7 linked regions of the Homo sapiens genome follow. The protein of the gene in region 6 purifies or fractionates together with the protein of the main gene of each other region. This does not show direct contact. Each region holds a gene or a part of one and is shown on either strand. Other genes may lie near its edges.

What was found.
Region 1: the proteins of GDE1 (region 6) and XPNPEP1 purify together in Homo sapiens (affinity purification with mass spectrometry; one large-scale study listed by BioGRID and IntAct). This does not show direct contact.
Region 2: the proteins of GDE1 (region 6) and GAP43 purify together in Homo sapiens (affinity purification with mass spectrometry; one large-scale study listed by BioGRID and IntAct). This does not show direct contact.
Region 3: the proteins of GDE1 (region 6) and BRI3BP purify together in Homo sapiens (affinity purification with mass spectrometry; 2 studies listed by BioGRID and IntAct, with this or other methods). This does not show direct contact.
Region 4: the proteins of GDE1 (region 6) and TMEM109 purify together in Homo sapiens (affinity purification with mass spectrometry, with the first as the bait; one large-scale study listed by BioGRID). This does not show direct contact.
Region 5: the proteins of GDE1 (region 6) and CDK14 purify together in Homo sapiens (affinity purification with mass spectrometry; 2 studies listed by BioGRID and IntAct, with this or other methods). This does not show direct contact.
Region 7: the proteins of GDE1 (region 6) and ATAD3C purify together in Homo sapiens (affinity purification with mass spectrometry; 2 studies listed by BioGRID and IntAct, with this or other methods). This does not show direct contact.

Annotation. Positions count from the first base shown.
Region 1 is NC_000010.11:109,864,512-109,868,011, forward strand, and holds the end of XPNPEP1 (xaa-Pro aminopeptidase 1), read right to left. Parts: intron 3,076-3,500; coding exon of another isoform or gene 3,018-3,075; intron 802-3,017; coding exon 673-801; coding exon of another isoform or gene 644-672; 3' UTR 255-643; downstream 1-254. UniProt on the Homo sapiens protein: Metalloaminopeptidase that catalyzes the removal of a penultimate prolyl residue from the N-termini of peptides, such as Arg-Pro-Pro. Contributes to the degradation of bradykinin.
Region 2 is NC_000003.12:115,626,510-115,630,009, reverse strand, and holds part of GAP43 (neuromodulin), read right to left. Parts: intron 1-3,500. UniProt on the Homo sapiens protein: This protein is associated with nerve growth. It is a major component of the motile 'growth cones' that form the tips of elongating axons. Plays a role in axonal and dendritic filopodia induction.
Region 3 is NC_000012.12:125,014,145-125,017,644, reverse strand, and holds part of BRI3BP (BRI3-binding protein precursor), read right to left. Parts: intron 1-3,500. UniProt on the Homo sapiens protein: Involved in tumorigenesis and may function by stabilizing p53/TP53.
Region 4 is NC_000011.10:60,912,814-60,916,957, reverse strand, and holds the start of TMEM109 (voltage-gated monoatomic cation channel TMEM109 precursor), read right to left. Parts: upstream 2,801-4,144; 5' UTR 2,690-2,800; intron 1-2,689. UniProt on the Homo sapiens protein: Functions as a voltage-gated monoatomic cation channel permeable to both potassium and calcium. Plays a role in the cellular response to DNA damage.
Region 5 is NC_000007.14:90,728,821-90,732,320, reverse strand, and holds part of CDK14 (cyclin-dependent kinase 14), read right to left. Parts: intron 1-3,500. UniProt on the Homo sapiens protein: Serine/threonine-protein kinase involved in the control of the eukaryotic cell cycle, whose activity is controlled by an associated cyclin.
Region 6 is NC_000016.10:19,508,599-19,512,098, forward strand, and holds part of GDE1 (glycerophosphodiester phosphodiesterase 1), read right to left. Parts: intron 2,347-3,500; coding exon 2,241-2,346; intron 1-2,240. UniProt on the Homo sapiens protein: Hydrolyzes the phosphodiester bond of glycerophosphodiesters such as glycerophosphoinositol (GroPIns) and glycerophosphoethanolamine (GroPEth), to yield a glycerol phosphate and an alcohol.
Region 7 is NC_000001.11:1,448,235-1,452,488, reverse strand, and holds the start of ATAD3C (ATPase family AAA domain-containing protein 3C), read right to left. Parts: upstream 2,801-4,254; 5' UTR 1,806-2,800; coding exon 1,731-1,805; intron 444-1,730; coding exon 367-443; intron 125-366; coding exon 55-124; intron 1-54.

The sequences.
Region 1 (3,500 bases), on a different chromosome or scaffold from region 6:
TGTTTTTTGCATAGGAATGACATATTTTAAAATCAGGAAAAAAAACTGAGATAAAAACACCATAATATTAGGTTTTCTAGAGAAAAGAAAAAGCTTACAACTAAGCCCCCAAATGTGCGGGGAGGCCAGGGGTCTCTTCTCAAAGGGGCCCTTCCACCTAGGAAATGTCTGCCACAGAGCCAGCAGCCCTGGAGATCAGCTCACCCGACATGCCGGGGGACAGCACCATGAAGAAAGAGACAGCTAAGACAAAGCACAGTTCTGACATTTTTATTCACTGATCATAAATATAGTCTCATGAGCATTAAGGTGATCATGAATGATGTACTAGCACCTGGAACATGACCATCATGGAGCACTCACTGATTCCCCATCACTGGCCAAAGAAGTCGGGGCATCTTCCTTTCACCAAGTGTTCAACTTTGGAGGGACCCTCCTTCTGGTGCAGCAATTTTATTCTTGGCTTGTTCTCAACAATTAAAAAATCATAAAAGACTGAGTGTTTGCAATAAAATATCAAAGAGGATAAGAAGATTTTCTGTTCTTCTTAAAGTCTAAAGTAAAAAGGGGAGGTAGGGAAGAAGGAAAGGAAAGGGGAAAGATGTCAGGGATCTGCCACGTTTCTTCCTTCCTCCAGAGCATTTTACAAAAACAAAACCGGGGAGGTATTTATTAATGCTGTTTGGAGATGGGTTGCGTCTCTCTGATGAGCCACTCGAGAGCTTCCTGGCGGCCCTGTTTCTGCAATTCCTTCCCAATCACATCCCTGCAGGTCAGGTGGTAATTGTTGAGCCAGTCGCACTGCAGGGAAGAGAAGGACAGACACGGTATTCACCACTACATCTTTAACAACTGGCTACACAGGTCAACAGCAAAGGCCCCCATGTGCTAAGATCACAAGCTGAGAGAAAAGGTGTGCAACACCCTTTCTCCTTACTCACAGGTAAGTATTTTCCTTGTGTTCTGTTTCCCCGGAAATACATAGGACCAGACTTCATGGCTTCTGGTGAAAAGGCTCCCAGAACAGTTTACTATTATAGACAGCAGTCTCTAAGCCAGTAGCTCCTGCTCCCACCTGTGTGGCTTCATTCCCTTAAACCTGAGCCATCCTGGGAGGTGGTAAGTGGGGGAATAGCCCCGGACTCTGTGAGAACTCCTGCTGAGAGAGACACTCGAAGCTGTCCTGCCAACACACTGGGCTACATATCCTATATCCACTGAAAAAGCTGAATAAAAAACTAGGATCAGCCAAGCCCATGGGTGTCTTTTGAGTGTAGCTGCCTAGATGAACCCAAAACCTGCGGTGGTTAAAGACTGTGGTGCAGCAGAATGGCGCTGGGAGTAAACTTAGTTTTCAGACTCTCAACTCAACATGCCACAAGAGCAGGAGACAAAAAAGAGAGTGAAAGGAAGGACCTGCTGGCAGGACTTGGTGCCTGGGCAGGGGCTGATCCACTAGACATGATGGCAAAAGCTCTGAGGCAGGAAAAAGGGTGAACTCTCCTCCTTGGTTGTATACGGGAAAAGGTGAAGTCTGGAGTGAAGCAGGTTTTACCAAGAGGACAACAAGCCACTCTCATCACTGTCTATGGGGGTAGCTGTCTGGAAGCTGATGAGACTGATAGTGCCATGGCTGTGCTTGTCATAAATGAGTCAAAGGCCATTTTGGAGGGCAGCGATGTTACAGAAGTACTGCTTTCAGGGACTACAATCCAGCCAGGTACCAAAGCCCAGCTGGGGTCAGGATGGGCACACAAACCCATTAATTACAAGGGACTGAGGGCAGACAGATAGGGTGGTGTTACCAACTGGCTGTGACCCAGCCAGGGTTCCAATCCCTACTGAGAAGAGCCTAGTAGCCCCTTCTGGGAGTCAGGGAAGTGATGGGGGCAGGGGAGGATGTCAAAAGCAGGCAAACTGCTATGTGTCCACAGCAAGGCCAGCAGGGCTACAAAGCAGCCTACTGTCCAAAGCAGCTCAACAGTAAGGCAACGGCAGCATCCTGGTGTAAGCCTGGGGCCACAGCCAAACGCCCATGGCCCTTTTGGTTGGAAGTAGGGAGGGAAAAGTGGGAGTGTGGACAGCCTCGGTGGAGCCTGAGGAGCAGCACAAGGCCCTGACAGTCTGCAGCTGGCCATATTCATATCTGACCAAGGTCCTTTGCTGCCATCTGGTGATAAGTGATGACGATGCAGACCCAAACCAAAAACTCCCTAAAGTGACTCCAAAATAAAGGCTAAATAGTAAAGGGCAAATGACCAGATATTTTAAAAGCCAGATATTTTAAGAAGACATTATCTGCCCTACAAAGAGTAACTGGCCGAAAGAATAGTTCAATCATGTGGGCATGCAAGGTGCAGCAATGAAACACTGGGTAACACAGATCCCTGGTCTATGTCCAATGTCACGGGAGTAGACTGATTCTCCTTCGAGGAAAAATGGCCTGGCTTAAACTTCCTCATATACTACTTCCCTGGATAAAGGGGAATGTCATATGGGAGAAATGCCTCCTGATGGGTACACTTTATGTGGACAGGAAGGACTGCATGACCTAGAATTACTTGGCAGGAATCCATAGCCTTGGACTTCCAAGAGTGCGAAATGACTTATTACTGGAAAGCCCCTTGCTAAGTCCCTGGAAGCTGTGCCCAAGGGCCATTACAAGAGACACTGGTTCCTATGGGGCAGAGGGATTCTAAGCAGGGTGGGTCCCATGCCCACCTATGTGTTTTCATTTCCTCTCAGCTAAGGCAACACTTACAGGGGCTGGACAAGAGCCCCTGGACACTGGAAGGACTCTTCCTGCTGAAGAGACACACCAGACATTGTGCTGATAGGCTGAGTTTCCTTTTCCATATCCATCTACAAGCTGCATAACCCACCCGGTATCAGCAAGGCCCATGTGGGTCCTGTGAGTGGGAATGTTTAGCTGAACCAAGGGCACGGATGGTTAAGCAGAGGCGCTCAAGCACAGAGGAAAGCTAAGCAGGAAGTGGATGGACTTTCTCATCACCCACCTGTGAACTGGAACAGGCAGAAGAGGCTTCTAGCTGGGAGAATCCCATTCCACAGCTCCTGTGGAAGGGAAGGTCCTTAACCCCCAAAGACCCTTTCCTTTACAGTGTCAAGAACGAGGCCCAAGTGGGCGCCAGTGAGGAAATGTTCCTGCCTTGAGAGGCACTCAAAGGCCATTGGCTGCCTCAGATAACAAAATATTCTTATTCCGAGAGTAACCCACCGTGCTTACCCTGCCTTCGGCTCCCACCAGTCATTTGCTTTTCATTGGAACTTCTGACCCCTGCCTTGCTCTGGAATTTGTGTCCTCCTGGCTTCCAGCTTCCTGGTTTGGGAACTGTTTTGTCTGTCTAGTGCTAACAGTTCCTACCCCATTTCTGACCCTTGTTTCTGCTCTGACCTTGAACATCTGTGTGATTCTTCAGGCCTTTCTCATGTCCCCAGGACTGCCATCTGACCTGGCCTTACCAGTCCAGGGTCTGAAG
Region 2 (3,500 bases), on a different chromosome or scaffold from region 6:
TATGAGAGTTCAGAGAAATACAGTCTATAAATGGGTTCATTTTGTGGCTGCTTTTATTAAAAACTGATGGCTGTCATGTCTATAAGTGAATAACAAGAATCACTGATGATCAGTTCCACTTTAAAATTTCATGCCAAGACATTTTTTTAAAAATCTCCTAGTGATTCTATCCATTTAGATATGCTACAGCCTGTGAAAAGACTATAAACCTGGTTCCATATTTATTTAGCAAACAGATTATTCATGGTTAACATGAGTTATTTTATGTACCAAGTATTATGGTAGAGATAAAACAAGAATTATGTTTTCATCCTTTTCCCCAAGAAGCTCACAGGGTAGACACCAGAATGTGAAAAAATAAATGTCAAATAGTGCAATAAGTGATAATAGAGATAGTACAAAATACAGCATGGGCAAAAAGAAGGTAGAAGAAAACTTAATTAGGAAGGTTAAGAATGGCTTCAAAGAGCTAACTCTTGCAGGGAAAGTGGGAATATTTCAGGCTGAGAGGGAAGGGTAACATGGGCAGAGAGTGGAGTACAAGCGAAGGCACCAAGGCCTGAAATCTTGGCATGGTGTCATCAGGTAAAAAAAAAAAAAAGAGCAGGGGGGCTGTTGGAATTTGGCACTAGAAAAGCAGGCAAAACTAGATTGTGTCATTGATGCTGAAGAGTTTATATTTTAACAAAGAAAATAACAAAACCCGATTTGCATTTTGTAAAGATAGCTGTGGTGTTATTTGCAAGGTAAACTAAAGAACAATGTGGTGGTAGAACTCCACATAGAAAGTTACTGCTTTTGTCCAGATGAGTAGTCATGAAAAGTCTGTGCCAGGTTATTTATATAAACAGGGTAGAAAAGCAGAGGATTTATTCAATCTTTTAAACAAGAATCAAGGAATCAAAGGATTTAGAAACTGGATATGGGAGTTGAAATAAAATACATTCAGGATTACTCTCAGGTTCCTAGAGCTCTGAGGCTGGATGGACAGTATCAGAGCAATAATTGTAGTGAGGAAGATCAAGTGTGATACACAACAGAAGACACTGAGTTGGGTTTTGTACCTAACAAACTTGTCTCTGAAATGAAGCACTTAGACCAAGATAACTATGGATCAGAAGCTAAAAACAGACATCTGATCTACAGATCTGGAAATCACACAGGTGGCTAAAGATTTGGATGTGGATGACCTGATGAGATCACCTAGGATTAGTGAGTCAAACGAGAAGAGTGGAATGAATGAAGATTATGATCCAGGAGATCATAGATTTGGGGAGGTGGGTGAAGAGAGCAAGAGAAGCCTATAAGGAGACTGAGCAGGGTCTTATCTGAGAGGGAGAATAAGGAGAGCTATTAATATCATGCAGACCCAGTAAGGGGACAGTTTCAGGAACAGGGATTGACAACAACACAAAATGCCAAAGAGACATCAAATAAGATGTAAAATGAAGGGTCACTGGATGTGACACCCTTTCAGAATATGTTTTTCAGTGAAATTATGAAAATCAAAGCCAAATTAAACTAGATGGAATAGTGAATGGGGAGTGAAGAAGAGGAGAAAATGAGGGTGGAGAGTACTTGGAACTTTGTTCTAAAGGGAGAGTGAGACAGAGAACTATAGAGATGGGGACATAGAGTCAGGAGAGAATCTTTTAAGATAGATGAGGCAAAAGCATATTCATAAACTATAAGGAAAGGAGCCAGTGCAGCACAAGAAGATGAAATCTCAAGAAAGAGCAGGGCATGAGGGACTGGGGCTCTGGGGAAAACACGGGGGGAGGAGCAAGAGCACAAGCAGAAGGCTCAACTAAGACTAGAAGGAACTCATCTCTAACAGGGAAAGGTAGACACAGCAGGCACTAGATCATCCTGCAAAACTGGGGCCTCTAAGACAAGCCTCAAATTGCAAAACTTGGGGAGAATAAAAATTTCTTATATTGATCTTTATTTTCACATCAAGTATGTTTAAGCCCTACAAAAATCCTTAAGGTAAGCAAAGTGTTCATTTGTGTCTGGTTTTTGGTTTTTACTCTTCATTCTACAGAAGGAAACTGAAACCCAAGGTGATGTGGTTTATTAAAGCTCACAGTCAGTAAGTGGCCTCCACTAAGGACTCACAGTATAATATTCTTCCCAACACTTCTGAAAATGTTATGAAGATTTAATTACAAAGGTACAAAAGCCACCTGACCACACTTCACAAATTGAAAAGGGAGAATTCCTGTATGAAATCACTTCTTTGGTTTGCAACAGCCACTGCTTGGTTGCCCTAATGCCTTTATTAATACTAATAGGGAAGTGAATAGTTAAATGCTGCTATACCTTCTCTTGAGATGACCTGGTTATGTGCATTCTTTGAACTATTAATAGAGGAAGACTTGTCTTACTTTATCAATACGATTGGTTAATATATATGCTCTATTCTTGCCTGAAAGAACACCAGTACCCTTCCTTATGGGGCCAGGTAAAATTCTGAAGTCTGTGGATTAATTCAGCCCCAGGAATAACACTGGCAATTTCACTATGACAGAGGCAAAGGAGACCCCAAGCCACTCTCCCTCTCGGTGAACAGGAGTACTGCCCTTTAGCTTGAAACATCAAAGGAGGTTTCTGTAGTTTTGCCAGCTCAGCAAGAAAGAAAATTAACTCTGCATTTTCTTATTCCAGTTGCCTCAGCATGGGTTGGTAGGGGAGGGGGTGGGGAAGAGAGTTACACAGACTCTGTCAGCAGGAGAGATCAGGGCTCATTGTGTATGCGCCCTGGCATGGGTTAGAAGGAATTATAGAGTCACCAGAAATGAACACTTTCTAGACTCACCATGAATTTTCTAAGGTTCTCTGCAAGTCCAGATAATTTGGCAAAAAAAAAAAAAAAAGAAAGAAAAAAGAAAGAAAATGCCCTTCAAATATTTTTTCTGTTTAAATTTGGAAACCTGTGGTGAAAATCACTATTAAAAAAAAAAAAAAGAACGAGAAGCTTCAATTATATTAAGTAAAATGGCTCAGCTTAATTAATTCACTAAGTCCCTGAGTGACACTGGGTGTGGCTCAGAGAGATTTGGGAGGAATCCAATTTATCACTAGGAAGAATCGCCTGCACCAAGCAGCAAGGCAGCATCCTTCCACACCTTCCCAACACTGCAAGGAAAGGCAGAGAGGTCGGAATTTTAAACCACAGATCACACTCTCAGAGATAAGATTTATTTGTTGCATGAGGAAAAAAGCAGATATTGGCATGGATGGGGGGCTGGGGAGTAGAGGGACTACTTGCTTGCATGAAATTCTTTACACTTCAATTACAAACTAAAGTCATTATTTTTCAACAAAAGAAACACCTCATAGTTTTCTTGCTTTGTAGACATAAATCACACCTTGCCAAGTTTTTAATCATCTGCAATACACATGGCAATTAAGCTATTTAAAGTAAGCCCCAAGATATTTGAAAATCATAAGGCAATACAATATTAGGGATTATTTTATTTTATTCCTCCTTTGCCCAC
Region 3 (3,500 bases), on a different chromosome or scaffold from region 6:
GCCATCTATCGTGTGCTGAGCCCTTGAAATGTGACAAGTCAGAACTGATGTGCGCTCTAAGTGTCAAATAGAGACTGTCTCAAAGGCCTTAGTTACCCAAAAAACTGTGAGACACCTGATAATTTTCTATTAATTATAAGTTGTTTTTAATATATTGGGTTAACTAAAATATCTTATTAAAATTAATTTCACCTGGGCATGGTGGCACATGCCTGTAATCCCAGCACTCTGGGAGGCCAAGGCAGGCAGATCACTGGAGCTCAGGAGTTCGAGACCACCCTGGGCAACATGGCAAAACCCCATCTCTATAAAAAAAAAACATTAGGGGGGCACGGTGGCTCACGCCTGTAATCCTAGCACTTTGGGAGGCCGAGGCAGGTGGATCATGAGGTCAGGAGTTCGAGAATACCCTGGCCAAGATGGTGAAACCCCATCTCTACTAAAAAAAAATACAAAAATTAGCCAGGCATGGTGGCAGGTGCCTGTAATCCCAGCTACTCGGGAGACTGAGGCACGAGAATTGCTTGAACCCGGGAGGTGGAGGTTGCAGTGGTGAGATGAGATCGGCCACTGCATTCTAGCCTGGGCGACAGAGCAATACTCGGTCTCAGAAAAAAAAAAATAATAATAATAATACAAACGTTAGCCAGATGTGGTGGTGCACACTTGTGGTCCCAGCTAGTTGGGAAGCTGAGGTGGGAGGATCACCTGAGCCTGGGTTGGTGGAGGTTGCAGTGAGCTGGGATTGCACCACTGCACTCCAGCCTGGGCAACAGAGCAAGACTCTGTCTCAAAAAAAAAAAAAAAAAAAAAAAAAAAGGCTGGGCGCAGTGGCTCATGCCCGTAATCCCAGCACTTTGGGAGGCTGAGGCGGGCGGATCACGAGGTCAGGAGCTCAAGACCAGCCTGGCCAACATAGTGAAACCCTGTCTCTACTAAAAATACAGAAAAATTAGCCGGGTGTGGTGGTGCATGCCTGTAATCCCAGCTACTTGGCAGGCTGGGGCAGGAGAATCACTTGAACCCAGGAGGCAGAGGTTGCAGTGAGCCGAGATAGCGCCATTGCACTTCAGCTTGGGCAATAGAGTGAGACTTCGTCCCTCCTACCCCCCACTCCCCACCCCCTCCCCCCCAAAAAAGGAAGAAAAACTAATTTCACCATTTCTTTTTACTCTTTTGACATGGTTACTAGAAAACTTCACATCACCTAGGGGGCTCACATTTTTTTGCTATTAGACCATTCGGGGCTACAGAGTTCCCATTTTAACCAGACTCAAAAAAAAAAAAAACACTGAAGAAAGAAATTATAGAATTGTGCTCACAGAAACCTTTTTTACCAGAATATCCAACGTTGGTGTATGGCTTCCTGTAAAGCATTTTGCACTCAAACTTCTACGCATAAGACACGAATTCCAAAGGGCTTCGGATGCCTTGAAGCTTACGCATCAAACAGAACTAGAAAAGCTTCGACACGGAAGCAAGCTCGTTTCGCCTCCAGAACGCGCCAGCTGCTCCCCTGATGAATGCAGGCATTCAGGGCTCGTGGATCCGCTGCCGATGCCTCTATTCTGGGCTTCTTCCATATGATTAGGAGGCTGTTCCTACTCTGTAGTTTTTCATTCCAAGCTGCGTGCGATTTTCTGCAATCAGGTTTGTTTCTCCAGGGTTCAATGGGTGGCGACGAAAACACAGAGAGTTTGACAATCCGGGCAGGTGGTGGATACGGAAGCTAAGAGGATTGCACGCGGTGGCTGCATCTGGGGGAGGGTGCGTTAACTCTGCCAAGTCCCTGGAGGGGCCATGAGTGGCCCCAGGGGGCTGCCAGGTGCACAGTGTCCTCTGGCTATGCTGACGCCTCTGATTCTTTGTCTGAGCAGTGAGGTGACTGAGTTGGCCTAAGGCCTCTTAAAGGTTGAACTCAATGAATTAAGGCTGGAGACATTTCTGAATGGCCTGGGGTGTCAACAGGTATGAACCAGTGTGCCCATCATGGCCAGTGGACCCCACTCCCCCATCTCTGGGTGTCAAGCACCAATGGGCGCTGCTGAGAGATTCCGCATGTAACAGGGCTATGGTATAATGGTTTCCCGTGACTGCCGCAACAAACCACTACCAACTGGGTGGTTTACAACAGAAATTCATCCACTTGCGGTTCTGGAGGCTGGAAGTCTGAAATCAAGGTCTTGGTGGGGCCACACTCCCTCTGAAAGTTCAAGGGAGGATCCTTCCTCGCCTCTTCCAGCTTCTGGTGGTCCCAGTGTTCCTTGGCTTGTGGCTCCGTCCCTCCAGTCCCTGTTTCTCATTTCGCATGGCCGTCTTCTCCCTATGTTTCTTGGTGTTTCTGTGTCCAAATTCCCCACTTCTTATAAGGACAGCAATCATTACACTGAGGGTCCACCCTAATCCAAGACGATCTCATTTAACTTTATCACATCTGCAGACCCCACTCCCAAACAAGGGCTCACTCACAGGTCCAGGATTAGGACTGGAACACATATTCTTGAGGAGCACATTTCAGCCCACATGACTGGCTAAGCAGTGGGACCCACAGCCCTCCTGCTCTTATTAACCAAGGGTGGGCTGGGTGTGGTGGCTCACGCCTACAATCTCAGCACTTTGGGAGGCTGAAACAGTAGAATGGTTTGAGCCCAAGAGTTTGAGACCAGCCTGGGCAACATGGTAAGACCCTGTCTCTACAGAAAATTCAAAAATTAGCCAGGTGTGGTGGCATGGGCCTGTGGTCCCAGCTACTCGGGAGGCTGAGGTGGGAGGATCACGAGCCCAGGAAGTTGAGGCTGTAGTGAGCTGTGATTGAGCCACTGCACTCCAGCCTGGGCAACAGAGTGAGATCCTAAACAAAAACAAACAAAAAGGGCCTCTTTGTGCCAGGTGCAGAGCTGGGGCCAGAGTGCAGCCTGGAGATGCCAGGCCTAGGCTGTTGACACAAATGATGTGGTTTATGACAACACCTGCGTTCCCTCTGGGAGTCTAGAATTTTGACACGTGTCAAGCAGAGGGTGACTACATGACCAGCCCCCAGTAAAAAGCCTGGGCAGGGAGTCCTTGGTGGGCACCCTCTGCTGGGGGAATTAAGTGTGTCCCGTATGACTCCACAGGGAGAGAACTCTGAAGCTTGGGCCTGGCCTGCCCGGGAATTCGCGCACCTTTTCCCTTTGCTGATGGTGTTTGCGTCCTTCCGTCACAATAAATCACGGCTGTGAGGACAACTATATGCTGAGTCCTGCCAGTGCTCCTAGGGAACCGGTGAGCCTGTAGATGGTCTTAGGAACCCTGCCACATGCAGCAACTGCAGACCTTCCCGTGAGACAGGTGGCAGCTGGGACCAGGGACCAGGGCGGTGGGGCTGGAAAGAGCCCAGCTGGGGAATTTCCTCTGGAAAGGCCCAGGGGAAGAGCGGCCTCCACCTTGTGGACAGAAGGAGAGCAGTGGAGCGGGGGCAGCTAGGAGATCCCTGTTTACCTGGCACACCATGGGGCACG
Region 4 (4,144 bases), on a different chromosome or scaffold from region 6:
TCTGGGTCATAACCATGTTGGGGACTTAAAAGAGCAGGGTTGCTATCTTGGGTTGGATCCTTTATCCAAGGACCTCCACCAGGAGGGATCAAATATCGTTTCCTCAGCCCTAGGAGGTCAGGGTGCCATAAGCTGCTCCTCCCACAGCAGCCTGCCTTGTTCTGTGCCAGCCCCAACTCTCCAGTGGCTGTCTGCCCCAGTTAAGGGGAGCTAGGAGACCTTGAAATAAGCCCTCTGCAGTGAGGCTGGCATCGTTATGCAGACTGATGTTCTGAAGTGCACCAGATACCAAACCTAACAGGATTGTGTAGTGTATCCTTTGGAGATAATGAGTGCAGAGATTGGCTGGCTGGTCTGCTTTTTCAAATTGTTTTCTTTAATAGGATTCCTTCTCATTTTTTTCCAGGTGAATCTCAGGCAGTATGGACTCACTGCTATTAGGCCTCCTCACTTTGGCCTAATCAAATAGTTTTACTAAAGGCATGGAAACAGTCTCAGCCTCTGAGAGGAGGAAGCATGTCTTAAAACTTCTTCACCTTCTGCAATGCCTGGCCTCAGACAAATAATAGGCACTCAATTAACAACTCATAATAATACAAATGTTATACATATCTATACATATACATATGTTATAATAATTTTTGTGTGGTGCTTTATAATTCACAGAGTGCTTATTGTTTCATCACTTCATTTAACTCTAACAACAATCTTTTAAGGTATTATTACCCTCTTCATCTTACTCAGAAAAGTATGGCTTAGAGAGGTTGAGTGACTTATCCAAGATCACACAGCAGAGCTGGGACTTGACTCCAGTACCCAGGATCTCAATCTTGCCTTTTTGCTTGTCCCATACCCGCATGCTGCCTTGATAGTGGACATAGTCCCTGCCCTCATGGAGCTGAAGTTCACCAACAAGCTCAAAGTGGAAGGACATCCAGACTCCTCCGAGGGAACACATACCAGGAGACCATCTGCCTTCTGGGCTTACAGGCCATGGTTTTGTACCAAGAGGTATGAGAGGACAGCAAAAGGTGGGAGACAAAACCTGCCACTTCTGTTCGGCAGCTGCAATATGGCTCAGGTGGGTCTGGAGAGCCCAGCCTGGCTGGGGAAACAGCTTTACTTATTGTGTTAGTGAGAAGGCGCCACTGCTTATGTTTAGCTGTGGTTTGCTACAAGGGTAGGATGGGGCATTTCGCGCCCCCCCCTCCCAATCAAGGCTCCTTCCTCCTCTTCTCTTTCCTTTTGTTAGTTTCATTTCATGCTATGAATCACCAGGTGGCAGGAGGGGCGGCAAAAAGTGCCCTCTACCGGCTCTGACTGTCCCGCCGCTGCTCATAGCTGCCCCTAAGGAGCGGCGGTTCTCAACTTTGGCTGCCCATCGGAACTGCCTGTGCAGCCTGTTAAACAAGGACGTCTGCCCCACCCAGGGCTACTCACTCAGACTCTTCCAGAGAGGGACTCAGCCCTTTGTTTTGCAAAGCTCCTCAGGAATTTCGGATGCATAGCCAGCAGCTCAGGGAAAAGTCTAAGCAAAGCTTCAAAAGTGCAGCAGTGTACAAAGGACCCCTGACTTCCGTCCCAGGCTCAAGTGTGCCACGGACTAGAAGCTACTACCTTACGCCTGTTACTTAACCTGCCTGAGTTGCAGTCTCCTCAAACGTAAAAGGGAGTGAACCCAGGTGAAGAGTTGCTGTAAGGAGTTAAGATATTTCTGCAGCAAGCGCTTTGTAAACTAAACATCTATAGAAATGTTGCAGCACACACATTACCACTGACTATATATCGTAGCATAATTTAGCAGTTTATCAACCTGCCTTCCCCAGTAGACCGAGCGACTCCCGGTTAGACTTGACATGTTGGAATCCCCAGCGCCTAGTAGGAAAGATGACTAATAAATGTTTATTAAATGAATATTAGCAACCTGCCAAGAAACCGTGAGGGTCGAACGAGAAAGCCATGGAGAGGTGAGGAGGGAGGTTATTTTAATAGTAGATCCAAATATACAGCAGCCACACGAGAAGCACAGCTGAGTCTAAAGGAAGGTCCTAAACAAGGCGAAGCCGCCACTGCAGAGAATGAAGTCAGCGCCCTGGCAGGTTGGGGGCAGCTCCCACTAAACCCCTGACAGCTGCTGCCCAGCAACTGTTTGGGGGCAGGGCGACGGCAAAGGGGCAGCTTCCCTGCCGCTCCGCGCCCTAACCGGGGCGCAGCCTCCCGGAGACAGGGTGTCAGTGGCATGTGCTATTTCGAACGGCGCGTCCCCTGCCAAGCGCTGAGGGGTAGCGTCGCTGGCAAGGAACGTGGCGCGACCCATGAGTTTGGGGCCCCCCGAAGGGCTCGAGCCGAGGCTGCAGGAGGCTGGGCCGTGGGTCGGGGTTCGGGGGCTCGGGCTTGGCGCTGGCCTGGTCCCCACGCCCGGGAGCCGCTCCACCTCTGCCGGACCTCGGAACCTCGCCGCAACCCTCTTCTCCCCGGAAACGTGCGCCTCCCGGGTTGCCTGGAAACGACGCCCCCGGTTGCATAGCAACGGGGATCCGGGTCCCCGGTTTGTTTCGCACGCTGGGCGCGCGGACCCCTCCCCACTCGGACTCTCCAGGCCTCGCGGCTCCGCCTGGTGCCGCCTGCAGCGGCTGCTGTCTCCCCTTCCCGTGCGCTGCCCCACATTCCGACCTCGGCCCGCTCTCACCTTTCTCAGGCCACTGCTATCCTTCACGTGCGACTTCGCTGAAACGCGCCACCAAACCCGCGCCTCAACTCGGGGCGCTGGTTTACCTTCTCCGCATGCGCAAGGCGGGATGAGCTCGGAGACTAGCCGGCCTTCCTCACAATCGAAGCCTGTGCCGGGAGCGCATGCGCCCCGCTTTATCTATTGCGTTTCTTTTTCCCCCCACAAGCATTCCCACCGAGAGAAGAATGGGATCGGAAGTTCCAGCAGGGAACGGAAGTCTCTGGCTGGAAAGGGGAAATAAGTGACTATATCTGGGCTGTAGAGTGGGTAAACTGGATCTTTGAAATCGGAGTGGAAGCTAATCCTCCTCTTGCCACCACTCGGCATTTTGGGTCATGTAGTTCTAGAGCTACAAATGTTCCCTGGGGCATTGTGGGCAATGTAGTTCTAACCGAGCCGCTAACGAGCACCTAGTCTTCCCATACACTTTTCGCGCTAAAAAGGCACAAAAGAGAAAGATATTAAAGGAGCAATTAAAAGCACACTGCTCTAGGAAAACGAATGCGCTCCCCCAGAGAGAAAATTCATACCTGAATACTGTAGACGGCTCCCAAATGTTAGCTCAGAATTTCAGAGAAAGAGAGGAACCAACTCTCACTCTCCTTTTTCTGCCACAAAGGCAGTGCATAGGGACAGGAGGCAGATAAATGCTAGGTAGAAAAGAGCGGGTCCCTGGTGAAACCCCACCCTCAAGCCAAAAAGCCTGAAACCATGGCCCAAAGTGAGAACTTCTATCCATGTTTTTCCAGTTGAATGTTGCCTTTTCCTAAGCCACCCATGGCTCTGCCCTGCCTCATCCTGTGCCTAGAAAGACCCCAGACTCATCTGGCAGAGAGGAGAAGCAGCTGGATGAGGGGACGACCATGGCTGGATGTCAGAGAGAAGCAGCTTGTCTTCAGAGGGACAGCTTAAGGCGTAACTTCTGAGACGAATCTGGCTGGAGATAGCTGGACTTCAAGGGAAGACTACATACCGGCCTGTCCCACCCCCCTCTTTTCAGCTCACCTTCCCTCTGAAATCCACTTTGATCAGCAATAAAATCCCAGGCATTTGTCCTTTAATTTGTTCGTGCAGCTTTATTTTTCTTGGACGCTGGACAAGAGCTCGGGAGCCACGAGTGCGGATACAAAAGCTGTCACGCTGGCCCTCTGCCCTTGCTGGTGGAGGGCAACCGCGGGCCCACGGAGCTGTTAACACTTAAGCTGTCCACGGACGACAGAGCCAAAAGAACACTGTAACATGCCCTCTGGGGCTTCAGGAGCCTCAGGCACTCTGCCTGGACACTGCCCCGGGGCCTGCACGGAGTTCGCTCCTGCCGGTGTCCAAAAGCGCACGCTCTGGCTCCTGCACCCACTCACCTGCACGCTCCCTCCTATGAGGGGTGGAACGCGGTGAATCTTGAGTGAGTGGAGT
Region 5 (3,500 bases), on a different chromosome or scaffold from region 6:
CAGAGACACAACAAAAAAAGAAAATTTCAAGCCAATATCCCTGATGAACATGGATGAGAAAATTCTCAATAAAATACTGGCAAACCAAATCCAGCAGCCCATCAAAAAGCTTATCCACCATGATCAAGTCGGCTTCATCCCTGGAATGCAAGGTTGGTTGAACATAAGCCAATCAATAAATGTAATCCATCACATAAACGGAACCAAGGACAAAAACCACATGATTATCTCAAAAGATGCAGAAAGGGCCTTTGACAAAATTCAACAGCCCCTCATGCTAAAAACTCTCAAGAAACTAGGTATTGATGGGATGTTTCTCAAAATAATAAGAGCTATTTATGATAAACCCACAACCAGTATCATACTGAATAAGCAAAAACTGGAAGCATTCCCTTTGAAAACCGGCACAAGACAAGGATGCCCTCTCTCACCCCTCCTATTCAACATAGTATTGGAAGTTCTGGCCAGGGCAATCAGGCAAGAGAAAGAAATAAAGTGTATTCAATTAGGAAAACAGGAAGTCAAATTGCCTCTGTTTGCAGAGACATGATTGTATATTTAGAAAACCCCATCATCTCAGCCCAAAATCTCCTTAAGCTGATAAGCAACTTCAACAAAGTCTCAGGATAAAAAATCAATGTGCAAAAATCACAAGCATTCCTATACACCAATAACAGACAAACAGACAGCCAAATCATGAGTGAACTCCCATTCACAATTGCTACAAAGAGAATAAAATACCTAGGAATCCAACTTACAAGGGATATGAAGGACCTCTTCAAGAAGAACTACAAACCACTGCTGAAAGAAATAAGAGGACAAAAACAAATGGAAAAACATTCCATGGTCATGGATATGAAGAATCAATATCATGAAAATGGCCATACTGCCTAAAGTAATTTATAGATTCAATGCTATCCCCATCAAGCTATCATTGACTTTCTTCACAGAACTGGAAAAAACTACTTTAAATTTCATATGGAGCCTGCATAGCCAAGACAATCCTAAACAAAAAGAACAAAGCTGGAGGCATCACACTACCTGACTTCAAACTATACTACAAGGCTACAGTAACAAAAACAGCATGGTACTGGTACAAAAACAGATATATAGACCAATGAACAGAACAGAGACCTGAGAAATAACACCACACATCTACAACCATCTGATCTCTGACAAACCTGACAAAAACAAAGCAATAGGAAAAGGGTTCCCTATTTAATAAATAGTGTTGGGAAAACTGGCTAGCCATATGTAAAAAGCCAAAACTGGATCCCTTGCTTACACCTTATACAAAATTAACTCAAGATGGGTTATAGACTTAAATGTAAGACCTAAAACCATAAAAACCCTAGAAGAAAACGTTGGCAATACCATTCAGGACACAGGCATGGGCAAAGACTTCATGACTAAAACACCAAAAGCAATGGCAACAAAAGCCAAAATTGACAAATGGGATCTAATTAAACGAAAGAGCTCCTGCACAGCAAAAGAAACTATCATCAGAGTGAACAGGCAAACTCCAGAATGGGAGAAAATTTTTATAATCTATCCATCTGACAAAGGGCTAATATCCAGAATCTACAAAGAACTTAAACAAATTTACAAGAGAAAAAAGAAAACAACATCAAAAAGTAGGCAAAGAATATGAACAGACAATTCTCAAAAGAAGACATTTATGCAGCCAACAAACATGAAAAAAAGCTCATCATCACTGGTCAGTAGAGAAATGCAAATCAAAACCACAATGAGATACCATCTCACGCCAGTTAGAATGATGATCATTGAAACATCAGGAAACAACAGATGCTGGAAAGGCTGTGAAGAAATAGGAATGCTTTTACACTATTGGTGGGAGTGTAAATTAGTTCAATCATCGTGGAAGACAGTGTGGCAATTCCTCAAGGATCTAGAACTAGAAACACCATTTGACCCAGCAATCCCATTACTGGGTATATACCCAAAGGATTGTAAATCATTCTGCTATAAAGACACATGCACACGTATGTTTACTGCAGCATAGTTCACAATAGCAAAGACTTGAAACCAACCCAAATGCCCATCAAAGATAGACTGAATTAAGAAAATGTGGCACATATACACCATGGAATACTATGCAGCCATAAAAAAGGATGAGTTCATGTCCTCTGCGCGGACATGGATGAAGCTGGAAACCATCATTCTCAGCAAACTAAGAGAAGAACAGAAAACCAAACACCACATGTTCTCACTCATAAGTGGGAGTTAAACAATGAGAACACATGGACACAGGGAGGGGAACATCATACACCAGGGCTAGGGGAGGGATAGCATTAGGAGAAATATCTAATGTAAATGACAGGTTGACGAGTGCAGCAATCCACCATGGCAAGTGTATACCTATGTAACAAACCTGCATGTTCTGCACATGTACCCCAGAACTTAAAGTATAATTTTAAAAAAAGAAAAAATATATTTTTTAAAAGGGCAGCAAACAGAAAGGACTCAGAAAAAAACAGGATATTATAGCATCCTGCTGAAAGAGAAAACGAAGCCATTTCCAGTTTGATAAGGTAAGAGAAAAGACATTTTTCCAGGGCACATTGAATTGAAGCAAAAATTCCTAAAATAAAAAGAAAGCAAAGCAGTTCCCACACAAAGTAATATAAATGACCTAATATATATTAAAAAAAGTCATCCCAGGGTGAACCAGGAAAGGGTAAGCCCAAGATGATCTAAAGAAACTAAAAAATACAATAGAGAAACTGTGAAAACTTCCAGTGAAACTTGATGGCTTGAAAACATGTATTTATCTCTCCCCCTTACCAATTCATACTAAAACAATACTAAAATTAAAACCCATAAGGGCAATCAAAATGAGTAAAGAGAACACTAGAGACGAGATAGAAATAAAAATGTAAAGACAGGACACAAATGGTTGAGAAGTCACATTGCCTAGGATGAGTGGGGAAAAAAAAAAAAAAAAAAAAAAAAAAACCTTGATACCTACATGATCCAAGGCATAAGCCAGTAAGAAATAAGTCAATTCATACTTCAGAATCCCAAAAATACTCACAAACTGGAAGCTGAAGTTCAAGTTGGGGCTACAAATGATATGATTAGTTGGAGTGAATTTAAGGTGGAGGTCTTTGCCCCAGTCTCCCTCGGCCAGCCCCCTATCCCTTCCTAGTCCCGCCAGAGATTTATTCTCTGAAGAGGTTGAATCAGAGAATTCAACTGGGGCTTGGATACCAGGCAGAGTGGATATCAGATTGAAGAGTCATACCGAATGAAAAAAAAAAAAATCATGAGAAAGTTGGCATAGAGAACTGAAGGGTCCTCAGTCCCTTCTTGATCATCTCAGAATAGTGACAGCTAGGTTTATATGTCCTAAAAAAAATAAATTGGGTAAGTCCATTTTGTGAGAAACACCCAGTAACAAAAACAAGATCAAGAGACAGCGACATTTGAGAGTACTTAAATAAAACGACTAGGTCTTCACCAAGAGTCCCTATGCTGAA
Region 6 (3,500 bases):
TCGCTAATGCAACTGAAGGCAAGCTATAGAAAGCATTTTTTTTTCTGTTTGAACAAAGACATGCACTGTAAACTCTTAGCATTTACATTATTTAATTCTCACAACAACCTTATGTGGTAACTGCTTTTAGTATCCCCATTTTACCCATGAAGAAACTGAAGCTCATCAAAGTTAAGGTTACCCTGTAGTAAGAGCTCAGTCAAGGACTGTTGGAGTCCCAAGCCCATGATTTTGGCCACTGTGCTCTACTAGCTCCACTTTGTTGCCTACACTTGTGCCTTTCTACTACCATCTTGGTGAATTAGGTCACTATGTTCTACCCAGTCTTGGCTGAACACCCATGAGCACCCATTCAGAAGACTCAAATAGCTAGATTTTCTTTTTTAAATGTCTACTTCTTTTTAAAAAGTATTCTAAGAGAAGCCAGGCGTGGTGGCTCACACCTGTAATCCCAGCACTTTGGGAGGCCAAGGTGGGCGGATCACTCGAGGCCAGGAGTTTGAGACCAGCCTGGCCAACATGGCAAAACCCCATCTCTACTAAATATACAAAAATTAGCCGGGTGTGATGGCACATGCCTCTAATCTCAGCTGCTTGGGAGGCTGAGGCAGGAGAATTGCTTGAACCCCGGAGGCAGAGGTTGCATTGAGCCGAGATCGCGCCAATGCACTCCAGCCTAGGTGACAGAGTGAGACTCTGTCTCAAAAAATCTAAGAGAATAAGCATAAAAGTCAGTATACCATGGGTGAAATGTAGGACCTATCAGGGTTCCCAAATGTGGGCTGCAACATCAACAATGAGCACCTGAGGTGCTCATTAAAAATACATGTTCCTTGAGCCCACCCTAGACATTTTCAGAATCTCTTCCCTAGGGAGAATGGCCCAGGAATTTATATTTTAAAATAGGTACAGGTGATTCTAACGCAGACCAATTGGAAAACCTAGACGTATACAACTATCGGTTTACTAGAATAATAAATTAGTTACCATTATCTTCCTTCTTCAAAAATAGGAATTAACTGTTAATAAAATTAGAGTGTATACTTAGGCTCCACATTTCAGGTTTTTTTTTTTTTTTTGAGACGGAGTCTCGCTCTGTCACCCAGGCTGGAGTACTACTGGCGCAATCTCGGCTCAGTGCAACCTCTGTCTCCCCGGTTCAAGCGATTCTCCTGCCTCAGCCTCCCGAGTAGCTGGGATTACAGGTGCCCGCCACCAAGTCCAGCTAATTTTTGTATTTTTAGTGGAGACAGGGGTTTCACCATGTTGGCCAGGCTGGTCTCGAACTCCTGACCTCAGGTGATCCACTCCCAAAGTGCTGGGATTACAGGTGTGAGCCACTGCACCCGGCCCATTTTGGGTTTTAACAACTGGTTTCAATGATATCATGGGATTAATTAAAAAAAAAAATTGGCATCATCAGAATTCTCAACCAGTAGATGGCCCTTACCGATTATTAATATTGCTAGGGGAAAAATACTCAAGTTGCCCAAATGGGGAAAAAAGTACTTGCACTTGAAAAGCTGGTTATAAGAGAACAAATGTAATCAGAATCATATCTTCCCACTGATTTTCACTGTAATAATATGTTCTTATGAGTGTAAGTGCAGGCCCTAAAATTTAAGCAAAATTTTATCTAGGAATGTCAAATACATTTGAAGAAAATAAATGATTTTCTGATAAAAGTATAACTGCTAAAATCAATGAATAAAAAACTATACATAAGGGATATAAATTATACAAAGGGATAAATCTATGTAAAAGGTATATGTTCTGTTAACTATTAGAAGCTTTTAATATAGGAATTCTCTTTAAATGCAGTCCATAGTTGTCCATATAAGGCCCTTAACTTTTAAGCTAGATAAAATTGGTCTTGTGTACAACTTCGGAATTCCTTTTTTTCAAGTAACTCAAGGTTACTACAGTGGTTTTTTTCTAGAAATGTCTTTTTTACTGTTTACTTAATATCTTTTGTAAATGCTTTATGTAAATAATAGAAACTTGACTCTTCCATTTTATGCTGGTTTTGTAAAGTTTCCATAAAAGGTTAAAAAGTTCCATAATGCACTGTTTCCTTAAATGATATAGATTCCTGCATTGTACACTTCCATTAAACAAATACAATTTATAAAAATAAGTTTTAAAAAGAATAAATAACAAAATATATGTAACTTCGGAAATGACCGTCAATGAAATAAGATGTCTTTTTAACAAAGTGAAGTCCACAATTTAAACTGTACCTTGTGTGCATGGCCTTTGACATCAAAGAAGATTGTGAGGTTATGGTTTAGGCACTCTGCAACAGCTTCCCTTAGGGTAGGGATCTTTTCATCAGGGAAATCATTCCTGTAAGAGAAGAGAAAATACGTTGTAGGAAAAAAGAGAAACAGATAAACTGTATTGCAACAAACATTTTGCATATGTCTCTCAATCAAAAGGAAAGAGTGTTTTCTCCAACTTCCTTTTTTCGACCATAGCAAAGTCCAAAGATACTTTACTTTAAGATTTTTTTTTTTTTTTTTGAGACGGAGTCTTGCTCTGTTGCCCAGCCTGGAGTGCAGTGGTGCAATCTCAGCTCACTGGAACTACCAACTCCCAGGTTCAAGCAATTCTCCCGCCCCAGCCTCCCAAGTAGCTAGGACTACAGGCGTGTGACACCACGCCTGGCTAATTTTTTGTGTTTTTAGTAGAGGCGGGGTTTCACCATGGTGGCCAGGCTGGTCTTGAACTCCTGACCTCAAGTGATCTACCTGCCTTGGCCTCCCAAAGTGCTAGGATTACAGGTGTGAGCCACTGCGCCTGTCCTACTGTAATAATTTGAACCAAATTATAGATATTCTTTTTTCCACATTTTTATTGCTATACACTTAGACATATTTTTGTGATATGCGCATAATGTATAATGATAAAATCAGGGTATTTAGGATGTCCATCACCCCAAATATTTATCATTTCTTTGTGTTAGGAACATCTAAATCTCCTAGCTATTTTGAAATATACAACAGATTGTTAACTATAATCACTTTACTATGTTATTGAACACTAGAATTTATACCTTCTATCGAACTGTATGTTTGTACTCATTAACCAAATTCTCCTTATTCTCCTCTTCCCCCAACCCCAAACCCTTCCCAGCCTCTGGTAACTATCATTCTCCTCTCTACCTCCATGAGATCAACTTTTTTAGCTCCCATATATGAGTGACAACATGTAATATTTGCCTTTCTGTGCCTGGCTTATCTTATTTCATTTAACATAATACCTTCAGTTCCATCCATGTTGCTGTAAATGACAGGATATCATCCTTTTTTATGGCTAACTACATAGTATTCCATTGAGTATATTTACCACAGTTTATCCATTCATCCACTGATGAACACTTAGGTTGATTCTGTATCTTGGCTATTGTGAATAGTGTTGCAATAAACATGGGGGTGCAAGTATGCCTTTGATACACTAGTTTCCTTTCTTTTGGATAGATACCAACTAGTGGGATTACT
Region 7 (4,254 bases), on a different chromosome or scaffold from region 6:
CCCCACATGCTGCCCCTCAGCCACCTGCCAGCCCTGTTTTATGAGTATGTTTACCGTGGCTGTCACTTTGTCCCGGTCTGTCACAAAGGCACGGAATCCTTCCCCAAACAAGGTGCCAGCCGCCCTGTGGGGAAAGCAGTGGTGTGACCAGGAGGGAAACAAAGACCCACGCCACGTAGCAAGAACAGGTTGAGGGTGAGGCCTTGACACAGCAGCCTGGTCCTGCCAGGACAGGGGGGCAGTGTCCCCACCAAGGAGCCAGCCTACAGCGGCCAGACCTGGGAGAGCTGGAGAGCACCCTGGGACCAGCGACTCACACCTGTGGGGGCTCCATCTGCGGCCGGCCCGGGCCTCGGCAGCGCTCACCTGATGGACTCCAAGAAGGTCTGATGGTGCTTCTGCACGGACTCCTCCTGCTTCCGTAAATCCTCATTGACAAGTTGCTGAGAAGAAGCCGCAGAAAAAGAGAAAAGCCTTTAAAACCAGAAAAATGCTCAACACCAATCCAGAGGTTGCGTCCGCCCCAGGACCGCAGGGCTCCAAGCGTCCCGGGCACCTGGGGACCTGCAGACGCCGCACCCTGACACAGACACGGGTGACATCGGCCGGGACGGCAGTCACTGAGGGGATGGGTTCAGGGGCCCAAACTCCCCAGCGGCAGAAACAGCCCCCACTGTGGCTTCCCTGACAAGGGCCACTGCTGGCCGACCTCCCAACACCACTGCCCTGATTCAGGCTGGGCTTAAGGAAGCTTCTGTCTTCTGCCAATTAAACGTTAAAGCTACAATGCCCACAACAGGCAACACGTGAACCCCGCCTGTGAGCTCAGGACTGAAGGTGACCGGCCGGGCACCGTGGCTCACACCTGTAATCCCAGCACTTTGGGAGGCCGACGCAGGTGATCACTTGAGGTCAGGAGTTCAAAACTAGCCTGGCCAGCATGGTGAAACCCTGTCTCTAATAAAAATACAAAAATTAGCCGAGTATGGTGGTGGGTGCCTGTAATCCCAGCGACTTGGGAGGCTGAGGCAGGAGAATGGCTTGAACCCAGGAGGCAGAGGTTGCGGTGAGCTGAGATCGCACCATTGCACTCCAGCCTGGGCAACAGAGTGAGACTCCGTTTCAAAATAAATAAAATTAAAAAATCTTGCTGAGCTGGACGCGGTGGCTCACGCCTGTAATCCCAGCACTTTGGGAGGCTGAGGCAGGCGGAGATCAGGAAATCGACACCATCCTGGCTGACACGCTGAAACCCCATCTCTACTAAATATACAAAAAAAATTAGCTGGGCGTGGTGGCAGGTGCCTGTAGTCCCAGCTCCTCAGGAGGCTGAGGCAGGAGAATGGTGTGAACCCGGGAGGTGGAGCTTGCAGTGAGCCAAGGTCGCACCACTGCACTCCAGCCTGGGCGACAGAGCAAGACACCATCTCAAAAAAAAAAAAAATCCTGCTGAGTCAAAGAAATGAGGTGAGAATGTCAAGAAGATCCAGGCCCTCAGGACGACCAGACGCCCTCACCAACACCGGCCCTCCCTCTCGGGCGGCTCTGCGGCAGCGTCTCTCACCTCCCCTTGTTTCCTTCTGTGAAATGAGGCGCCCAAGCTTGGCCCTGGGCCCCACTGCTGCCCATGTACACACCCCCGGCCCTACCCACCGGCAGTAGCCCTACCAATCTCCACGCCCGAACCCCATGTGTGCCCCGGCCTCCCCGCCCACACCGGCCCCACTCACTTTGAGCTTGGACTGTTGCTCCAACTGCAGCGTCTGCTCCTGCATCTGCGCCAGATTCAGGGCGTCCTTTGACATGGCCTGCAGATGCAGGGACACGGAGGGCAGGTGTTAGGATACACGGATGCCGCTGGGCAGGCACGCACACCAGCCAAGGGGCTTTCTGGAATCCACGGCCACGCCTCGACCTCAAAGCCCCCAGCCCTGCCTCCCCATCCTCCTTCCTAGTCAGACCTGGCGTGACGATGCCCCATCCCCAGCACACGGCCTGATGCATTTGTGAGGTTTTATGCCCTCCAGGGATGGTCTTGGAGAGCCACATCAGGAAGGCCATCCCATGTGGACGGGAGGAGGCTCTTTCCCAATTCAACAGAAAGTCAGGCGATGGCTAAAGTGTCCATTTTTTCACGTTACACATGCTTTTTTTTTTTTTTTTTTTGAGACGGAGTCTCATTCTGGCCCAGGCTGGAGTGCAGTGGCATGATCTCTGCTTACTGCAAGCTCTACCTCTCGGGTTCACGTCACTCTCCTGCCTCAGCCTCCCGAGTAGCTGGGACTACAGGCGACCGCCACCACACCCGGCTAATTTTTGTAGTTTTAGTAGAGACGGTTTCACCGTGTTAGCCAGGATGGTCTCGATCTCCTGACCTCGTGATCCGCCCACCTCAGCCTCCCAAAGTGCTGGGATTACAGGTGTGAGCCACCGCGCCCGGCACATACCCTTTTCCTAAGCTTCCAATGGCTGTTGTCAGTGATCTGCTATCAAGAACGTGCGGGCAAGAAAATGAAAGAATAAGAATTAGATAGCAGCCAACAAGCTCAGGGTGACGAGGACAAGCATCTGACAACGTCCTCAGTTACATTTTGTTCCTAGTGGGGAACCGACACAGGTCAATGTTTGGGTGACCTGGGACAGAAGTACGTATTCTCTGAGCTGCTGAGGACTCAGCATCAGGTCTCAACATTTTCCGGGATGAGTTTTCCCATCACAAAATTTTACCATAAAAATCTTCTGGCCGGGCGCGGTGGCCCATTGAGAAAATATGCAGGACCTTGGGGAGTTAATCATGAAGGGGATTAAAGAATCCATGCCCGGAACCCAGAATCTTACCCGAATATTTAACATACAGCAAGGAAAAGATAAAGGGCCTGCGACATAATTTTTAGACAGATTAAAAGAACAAATGAGAAAATATGCTGGTCGAGGTGTCGAGGATCCTCTTGGGCAAGGAATTTGTCACTAACAGTTGGCCAGATATTAACCACAAATTACAAAAGAAAGAACTAGAAAAATAAGCCTGTAGAAGAGATTCTAAGAGAAAGGGAAAAAAATCTTAGAGGAAAGAGAAAGACTGACAGAAGGAACAGAGAAAGTCAGAGAGAGAGAGAGAGTCAGAGAGAGAGAGAGACAGAGTCAGAGAGACAGAGTCAAAGAGAGAGAAAGACTGACAGAGGGAACAGAGGAAGTCAGAGAGAGAGAGAGAGTCAAAGAGAGAGAGAGACAGGCAGAGACAGAGTCAGAGAGAGAGACAGAGTTAGAGAGTGAGACAGAGACAGACAGAGAGAGACAGAGTCAAAGAGACAGAGAGAGCCAGAGAGAGAGAGAGACAGAGTTAGAGAGAGAGAGAAAAGGAGAGATAGAAGTAGTCAAGAAAAAGCAATGTGCCCCATTCTTTTAAAAGCCAGAGTACGCCCGGCGTGGCAGCTCACCACGCCTGTAATCCCAGCACTTTGGGAGGCCGAGGCGGGCAGTTCAGGAGGTCAGGAGATCATCCTGGTTAACATGGTGAAACCCTGTCTCTACTAAAAATACAAAAAATTAGCCGGGTGCGGTGGTGGATGCCTGCAATCCCAGCTATGCAGGAGGCTGAGGCAGGAGAATTGCTTGAACCCAGGAAAGACAGAGGTTGCAGTGAGCCGACACAGTGCCACTGCACTCCAGCCTCGACGACGAATGAGACTCTGTCTCAAAAAAAAAAAAAAAAACAACTTACCGAAAGGCATGGAGGCCACTGACAACTATCCTTAATGTGGTAACCCACAGACGGCCGTAGTGCATTACAGGACGACACTTATTTAAAGATAGTTCCTCCCAGGTGATTCGAGGAAAAAGACACAATGGGTAATCAGTAACTAACAGGAAAAACTCTTGTGGAAATAGAGTTAAGAGGCCGGGCTCTGTGGCTCACACCTGTAATCCCTGCACTCTGGGAGGCTGAGGCGAGTGGATCACCTGAGGTCAGGATCACCTGAGGTCAGGAGTTCGACAGCAGCCTGGCCAACATGGTGAAACCCCATCTCTACTAAAAATACAAAAATTAGCTGGCCGTAGTGGCAAGCACCTGTAATCCCAACTACTCAGCATGCTGAGGCAGGAGAATCGCTTAAACTCAGGAGGTGGAGGCTGCAATGAGCCGAGATCACGCCATTGTACTCCAGCCTGGGTGACAGAGTAAGACCTCCGTGTCAAAAAATAAAAAATAAAAAAATAGAGTTAAGAAAGTTTCCTAATAACTGGTCTGCTCAA